Regions from separate parts of the Homo sapiens genome. Here region 2 is linked to region 1. The links come from fine-mapping of genetic effects on gene expression. Tissue or cell type: blood mononuclear cells. Region 1 holds a variant in brackets; the other region holds the start of a gene. All regions are shown on one strand. Distances are from middle to middle.

What was found. PIP is the estimated chance that this variant, and not a neighbour inherited with it, causes the effect.
Region 2: it holds the start of CASP5, and the variant in region 1 is fine-mapped to the expression of CASP5 in blood mononuclear cells (TOPMed, PIP 0.98).

Annotation. Positions count from the first base shown.
Region 1 is chr11:104,997,182-105,001,181 of GRCh38, reverse strand. It overlaps CASP5 (caspase 5), which reads left to right. Exons shown (of 10, transcript NM_004347.5): 6 at 687-921; 7 at 2,154-2,297; 8 at 3,690-3,799. Among named protein-coding and RNA genes, the nearest start is that of CASP5, 24 kb to the left of the region's middle. RefSeq lists an enhancer at 606-900. The variant C/G (reference allele first, on the strand shown) is at 2,201.
Region 2 is chr11:105,021,053-105,025,774 of GRCh38, reverse strand. It overlaps CASP5 (caspase 5), which reads left to right and starts at 2,607. Exons shown (of 10, transcript NM_004347.5): 1 at 2,607-2,645. The coding sequence starts at 2,639. All of the region lies in intron 1 of LOC124902742 (a long non-coding RNA gene), which reads right to left. It overlaps CASP1 (caspase 1), which reads left to right. Exons shown (of 9, transcript NM_001257118.3): 9 at 1-267.

The DNA of each region.
Region 1 (4,000 bases):
AGAGAATCCAAAGTAAGCAAAAAGGAAACATGAGAGAGAATGTTGGATGGGGTGCGATGTTTTTGGGTTGGTCCAGAAAAGCCTCTGTGGGGAGAGAACACAGGAGTTGGACGGCACTACCGGAAGGAATGGAATGGCTCTGGGAAGATGAGAATGCAGCGCCTTCCCAGTAGGGGGCGCTACCTGTGAAAGAGCTGAGCTGAAAATGAAACTGGCACATGTGAGGCACAACAGATCAGTGTGACTAGAGATTGAAGCAGAACAGACATAGTATAAGGATGAGTATGGTCAGGCCAGAAGATTGATTTTATTCTAAGCAACGTATGTTGGGTTTTACAAGGACAGTGGTGTGATGCGTTTATAACACATGACTCTTGTTAGGAAAGGAGAGAAAAGATTGAGATAAAAAAAAGTAATATAAGTAACATATAAAAATATACAATATATTAAGAAGACAGTGTATGGTGTGTCAGCAGGGAGAAAAAGTAGGAACCCACAGCCCCATTACAAAGGAAAAAAAAAACAAAACAAAAAAACATAAAACTGCTGTCATGACTGAGTAAGCGCTATGTGAAGCACCACGACCCGGATGTTACATATGTTTCTTGTTTCGCTCATGGTAAATCTAGGAGGTCCTATTAATTGTGATGCTTCTCTGACTGAAGTTAGACATTGCTCTTTTATAGGATATGGAGTCAGTGCTGAGGGCATTTGCTGCCAGACCAGAGCACAAGTCCTCTGACAGCACGTTCTTGGTACTCATGTCTCATGGCATCCTAGAGGGAATCTGCGGAACTGCGCATAAAAAGAAAAAACCGGATGTGCTGCTTTATGACACCATCTTCCAGATATTCAACAACCGCAACTGCCTCAGTCTAAAGGACAAACCCAAGGTCATCATTGTCCAGGCCTGCAGAGGTGGTGAGTGCTGAGGCTGAACATCTAACAGTTTTGAAGGTGTATGCAGAGGATTGTGATGTTTGGTTTATATTTAGGGGAAACAATGTTAGACCCCATCCAGTGCAAATAAAGTACATTGAATTATGAAGAAACTCTACCTAAGGGGCTGATATAATGAGAAATTGTCTCATCAGTGGAGAAATTTCTGTACAATTTTATCCACGGTGATAGTGGTGAAGGAAGTGGTGAAGGAGATCATCAGAATCCCTAAATCAAAGTTAAACAGAAATATTCAAACTTTGAAATGGAATCATTTACATGATAGCTTGATTTGTAAATGATTTACAGACATGTTGACATTATGTGGTTTCTGAAGAATTTGCACTTGAAACTGAAGTTATTATGTGATACAAGCACCCTATTTATTCACAATTATTGAAGGGAAAATGAGTTGGGAGTTAAGGAAACTTGAGGGGATTTAAGTCAATCTTCTCTCTCCCTCTTTTTATTCCTGACTTCCAATTACCTCATGACTATTGGGATGTATATTTTGTTTTGTTTCTTTAAGAAAGCAGCAATAATTTAACTGAAAACTGGTAATGACATGATAAATTCACTATTAATTTACACATTGTTGAATGACACTAGAGACAAAGCAAAATGTGTGTGTGTGTTTGCATGTGTGTGGGTCTGTATGTATGTATGAAATTAGTTAGAAAGAACACTGAAAAATAACAAGGTGGGCAATTGTGATAGCCATGCTAAGTGAGGCACATCAGTGTATAAAAAGTTGATGTCTCTTGATCCAACCCAAATGTCCATCAATGATAGATAGACTGGACAAAGAAAATGTGGTACACATATCCCATGGAATACTGTGTAGCCCTAAAAGGAATGAGATCATGTCCTTTGCAGGGACATGAATGAAGCTGGAAGCTATCATCCTCAGCAAATTAACACAGGAATAGAAAACCAAACACCACTTGTTCTCACTTATAAGTGAGGGTTGAACAATGAGAATACATGGACACAGGGAGGGGAATATCACACACCGGGGCCAGTCGGGGGGTGGGCGACAAGGGGAAGGAGAGCCTTAAGACAAATACTTAATGCATGTGGGCTTAAAACCTATATGATAGGTGCAGCAAACCACAATGGTACATGCGTAACTATGTAACAAACCTACACGTTCTGCATTTCTATTCTGGAACTTAAAGTAACATAAAAAAAAAAGAAAGTTGATGTCTCTACAGAAAAACATGGGGAACTCTGGGTCAGAGACTCTCCAGCATCCTTGGCA[C/G]TCATCTCTTCACAGTCATCTGAGAACCTGGAGGCAGATTCTGTTTGCAAGATCCACGAGGAGAAGGACTTCATTGCTTTCTGTTCTTCAACACCACGTATGTGTCTTTTAGTAACAGTCAAAAATTTGGGGGTGCTGAGGCCACCTTTGAATGATTCTATGAAATCAAGATAGGCCCTATGCAACAATGAGCTGAGAGAATGGTGTGTGCTCTCTATATATTTTGCATGATCTTATGTGTGCTGTGAGAATAGATTCCTTCCCCCTCCCACACACACATTTTAAAAAACTGTACTTTTATTATAAGTGTTACACTTTACAGTCAAAGGCATACCAAATATTAAAGCAATACAATACAAGGAACCCCATTCGCCACACACCATGTAAACATAGATGATGGATGCTGTTTTTTTAATAAATCCATTTAACATTTTGAATAGAAGTTTTATGGATCCCAGTACTGGCTGTCTTTCCAAACGATCAACTTCAAGCCCTCTTCTACATATATCCCACTTGATCCTACAAAGAGCAATGTTATTAAGTGTCCAGATAAAAATGTGAATGAGCTTTAAAAAAGGTAAGAAATGTTAGGGTGGAGCTAATTAGGTCTAATTACAGGAAACAGTCGTTTGTATTTCACCTCTAGGTAATCATCCTAAAGGGCTTTCTATTTTACTCTTTCCAAGTTGTAAATTTTCAAGTCTTATTTTTAAACCACTTTATGGAGGCATAGCTGACATATGAAAACTGTACATATTTAATGTATGCAACTCAATAAGTTTGGAGATTAGTACACACCCCTAAAATCATCACCCAAATCTATGCTGTAAACATCTCTCCTCCAAAAGATTCCTCCAGCTCTCTATTTATTATTATCATCATTCTGCAAGGGTGTGATAAGGATAATTTACATAAGATCTACTCTCTGCAAATTTTTAAGTATATAAGACAGTATTATTTACTATTGGCACCATATTATACAGTATTTTTCTATATTTTAATCTTCTATAACTGAAACTTTGGATGTGTTCATCTATTTTGTTTATTTTATGGTGAAAGACATCATGGTGCAATCTGTAAACAATCTTGGAGCCCGACGGTAGTTTTTTGTTGCTTCCTCACTGAACCTAAAAGTTTATTCATCCTTCTGAGCTTCTATTCTTTCCTTTGTAAAGTGAAAGAATTCCAGTTATTTCTCAAGTCCCCTTTTCTAAGCAAAGTGAATGAACATGAGGTCCATAATAAAAAGTTAGTTCCAAGAATCAAAATACAATCACTATGCAATCTCTTGCAATACTTACAAGCTGTCTTTTTTGTTCAACCTTTGCCAGCTTTTCTGTTTCCTCTGTGTGAAACCTAAGTAAATGTTTGGTTATAAGGGATTTCCATAAATCTATCAAGTAAATTCTCAAGCTATGCAAAAACAAAAATATAAACAAAAACATAGTGAAAGTCGTAGCCCAAGGCATACCAGGCTGTATCATCATAGATAACGTGTCCTGGAGAGACCGCACAAGGGGCTCCATCTTCATTACGGAACTCATCACATGCTTCCAGAAATATTCTTGCTGCTGCCACCTAATGGAAATATTTCGGAAGGTAAGCTTCCATTTCCTTTTCTAGTCATTTACTTATTTGCTCAGAAAGAATTTATCATTATTCACTAATCGAATAAAAATGACACAGTTTTTCAGGCAAGCAAAAGTAGTATGGCACCTGATTTCTGTCATTCAGGTGTTTAAAATCTGCTTTAGAGAAAGAAAATGTCAATATATCCCAGAAGAAGAGCAAAGTAAAACA
Region 2 (4,722 bases), 24 kb before region 1:
CTCACTTTTGGATGTTTCTCTCCTTCACCTCAGCAGGGTATATTTAAACATAGCATGTGGTCTTTCCTTTTAAAATTGTGTATGTTCCCATTGGTGGTATAACTTTATAACTTGCATGTCTTTAACAAAATTCTTTCCTATGTTTTTTTTTTTAATTATTTCTTTTTCTCATAGGAAGTGAAGAGATCCTTCTGTAAAGGTTTTTGGAATTATGTCTGCTGAATAATAAACTTTTTTGAAATAATAAATCTGGTAGAAAAATGAAAACTTGTCCTCATTTTTCTCCCACACTGAAGAAACAGGGACTGGAACTTAGAGTGACTAAGGAATTTAGAGTGTTTGACTTAATCTGTCAGACCCAAACTGGCTATTGGCACCTTTCTTTCCCAGAACTTAAAGTAAAATAAAATATAAAAATTTAAAAAAGAAAATCAGACTTACAAACATAGCAATGTTATTAATTACTTTCTTGAACAAAAATTTATTTTGTGCCATTTTTAAAAAAAGAAAAATCGTTTGCTGGGCTTTCTGCTTTGGGGATGTGATATAAGTTACAGCAGGTATCTGACTTCAAATAATTTAGAGCTCAGCAGGAGAGACGGGGGAAGACAGCTAGTTATGACAGCGACAGTGTAGTGTGATAAAGAACTTTTCCCAAATCCCACAGTTTGCTACTGACAAATCCATGAACTTGCATGTTTCTACCCTTTGCAAAAGTATTTAAGACAAAGTAAGTTTTGAATCAACCCTCAGTAGTTCACAGACTTCTTGAAAAGATAAGACAGCCATCCAAAATGAAGCGCTTGGCAGATGGTGCCTGACACCCTGAAGAAACTCTAGGATGCATGGTGTGCACAGTGAAGTCCTGGCATGGTGCAGAGAAAACGAGTTTGGGGTGAAATCATGCACTCAGGGATGTTAAGATTTAGGGAGGATTCGAAGAACTACCCCTTACTTGCAAATATGTTTTTTTCTAATATTTAACAGATTAAATGAGAGTTAATTTCTGACTTCTTAAACACCTTCATAGTTGAACACATTACAGTCTCTCTCTCTCTCTCTTTTTTTTTTTTTTTACCTTTTATTAACTGTTTCTCTGGGCATATCTCTTCTGTGTTATCATGCATACTCTACTACAACCTGAGACTACATCTGTGATCAGTCTTTGCTCAGAGAATATCAAAAAGGAGAAGTGAATTGCCACCCTAAGTAAAAATTAACTGTTAAAGCAGTTTTAGTCAGTTGAAGAACAGCATTCCAGGAAGTAGATAAGAGGATTCCTTCAGAACTGTCTCCAATCAAAGCGTAAGATGACAGGGAGATGGGGAGGAGAAGACTCCATCATGATTCCTCAGCACAGTTTAAACAAGAAATACATTTATTGAATAAACAATCCTTTCCTTGTTTCTTTTTGCTGTTGTTGTTGACTTTGTTGAGTATCAGTTGGTTATAGGTGTGTGGCTTTATTTTGGGGTTCTCTATTCTGTTCCATTGGGCTTTGTGTCTGTTTTTTTTGTACGAATACCTTGCTGTTGTGGTTACTGTAGACTTCTAGCATAGCTTGAAGTCCAGTAATGTGATGCATCCATCTTTTTGAAAAGCAGTTTGGAGATTTACCAAATAACTAAAAAAAGAACTATCATTTGTCCAAGCATCCCATTACTGACTGAATCCTCAAAGGAAAATGTACTGTTCTATCAAAAAGACATGTGCTTTCAAATGTTTGTCGCAGCACTATTCACTGTAGCCAAAATAATAGAATCAACCCAGGTGTCCATCAATGGTGGATTGGATTTAAAAAAATGTGGTACACTGCTACTATGGAATGTTACACAGCCATAAAAATGAAACCCTGCCCTTTGCAGCAACATGGATGCAACTGGAGGCCATTATTCTAAGCAAATTAATGCAGAAACAGAAAACCAAATATCACATAATCTCACTTGTAAGTTCTAGCTAAATATTGTGTACACATGGACATAAAGACGGGAATAACAGACACAGGGAAATACCAGAGGGAGGAATGAAGGAAGAAGGCAAGAGCCGAAAAACTATGTACTGGGTGCTATTCTCACTACCTAGGTAATAGGTTAAATTGTACTACAAACCTCTGCATCACCTAATATACTCTTGTAACAAACCTGCATATGTACCCCTGAAACTCAAATAAAAATTGAAATGAAAAATAAAGAAACCCAAGATATACAAAATATTTGGTTAATTCTTATGGGAAGATGCAAGGAAACTAGTTAGATTTTACTCATTCAGGACATGTGTTTTTAGACGAGCAGAGGTAGAAAAACTGACAGATCAGAAGAGAGGGATGAATAAAAGAAGATGTGGGGCTATGGAGAGAGAAAAGGAAAAAGAAAACCAGGCTGAGGTTTCAACCCACAAAACAATGTTTTGTCATTTGCATTTTTTTTCCCCAGGGAAGAATCTAGAGTTCAAGAATAGAAAGCCAATTTGCTTACTACAGGGCACTTCCCAATGATGAAACTATAGGTTCCCAGAAGCAACTTCCCATAATCTGTAATCACTTGTCCCCACTCCCTGCAATAAGGAAGTACCTAGTGTATTTTATCTCTGAGTCTGAGGCACTTTCCAGTGCTGTACAAAGAGACAGAGGCTGTTAGCTATGGCTGGTGAGTCTGGGCCCTTTTCTGACTAGCAGCTGGGTACTCAGGTCTTAGAAAAATCTTGATTTATTGCTATGTGACAGGCAGAAATACCAAAAGGGAAATCAACCAATAGTGTGCATGCTGAATCTTTCTCTTATTGGTGGTATGTAGTTTGAATCCTGAGACTGTGTAGAGACACTGAAGGAGAGTATGTTCTCTAGATGTTTTCAAGCCAGAAAAAGGTTAATTCCTTTCTTTCAGCTTCTGGTAATCAAAGAGAGAGTAAGGAAAGACAGAGTAAGTTATTTGTGTGAGAAAACTCCGGAAATTTCTAAATGCACTCTGAAATCTTCTCTGCTTCCTCTTGATTCCAAATTAATCCTCCAGACTATGAACCTTCTCCCCACAATCAGATCTGAGAGCCTCTGTGTTCTCAACGTGTTGTCATCTCTTATCTTGAATTATCTTATTGGTCTGTTTAAAGTGATTGCATTTTTCCACCTTTCTATGTAGTCCTGGTACTAACTCTTATAATGTAATATATCTTAGGTTGCTATCATAGACTTTTAACTGTCTTCCCACTCCCAAAAACTTAACCCTTCAGTCCATACTGCACACTACTTTCAGGCCAACTGTCTTATACACAGAAGCTAAAAAAGCCTATGAGTTGGAGTCCTGGGCTACTTAAGCAGCTCGTATTCCAGCAGGTCATATTGCGTCTTTGGTTTCATTCTCCTCACTGGAAAAAGGAAGAAACTGGAATAGATCAGTGCTTTCTAAACCTTATAACATATATGAATAATCTGCAGTCTTTTTTTTTCTTTAATTTATTTATTTATTATTATTATACTTTAAGTTTTAGGGTACATGTGCACAATGTGCAGGTTAGTTACATATGTATACATGTGACATGCTGGTGGGCTGCACCCACTAACTCGTCATCTAGCATTAGGTATACCTCCCAATGCTATCCCTCCCCCCTCCCCCCACCCCACAACAGGCTCCAGAGTGTGATGTTCCCCTTCCTGTGTCCATGTGTTCTCATTGTTCAGTTCCCACCTATGAGTGAGAATATGCGGTGTTTGGTTTTTTGTTCTTGTGATAGTTTACTGAGAATGATGATTTCCAATTTCATCCATGTCCCTACAAAGGACATGAACTCATCATTTTTTATGGCTGCATAATATTCCATGGTGTATATGTGCCACATTTTCTTAATCCAGTCTATCATTGTTGGACATTTGGGTTGGTTCCAAGTCTTTGCTATTGTGAATAATGCCACAATAAACATACGTGTGCATGTGTCTTTATAGCAGCATGATTTATAGTCCTTTGGGTATATACCCAGTAAAGGGATGGCTGGGTCAAATGGTATTTCTAGTTCTAGATCCCTGTGGAATCGCCACACTGACTTCCACAATGGTTGAACTAGTTTACAGTCCCACCAACAGTGTAAAAGTGTTCCTATTTTTCCACATCCTCTCCAGCACCTGTTGTTTCCTGACTTTTTAATGATTGCCATTCTAACTCGTGTGAGATGGTATCTCATTGTGGTTTTGATTTGCATTTCTCTGATGGCCAGTGATGGTGAGCACTTTTTCATGTGTTTTTTGGCTGCATAAATGTCTTCTTTTGAGAAGTGTCTGTTCATGTCCTTCGCCCACTTTTTGATGGGGTTGTTTGTTTTTTTCTTGTAAATTTGTTTGAGTTCATTGTAGATTCTGGATATTAGCCCTTTGTCAGACGAGTAGGTTGCGAAAATTTTCTCCCATTTTGTAGGTTGCCTGTTCACTCTGACGGTAGTTTCTTTTGCTGTGTAGAAGCTCTTTAGTTTAATTAGATCCCATTTGTCAATTTTGGCTTCTGTTGCCATTGCTTTTGGTGTTTTAGACATGAAGTCCTTGCCCATGCCTATGTCCTGAATGGTAATGTCTAGGTTTTCTTCTAGGGTTTTTATGGTTTTAGGTCTAACTTTTAAGTCTTTAATCCATCTTGAATTAATTTTTGTATAAGGTGTAAGGAAGGGATCCAGTTTCAGCTTTCTACATATGGCTAGCCAGTTTTCCCAGCACCATTTATTAAATAGGGAATCCTTTCCGCA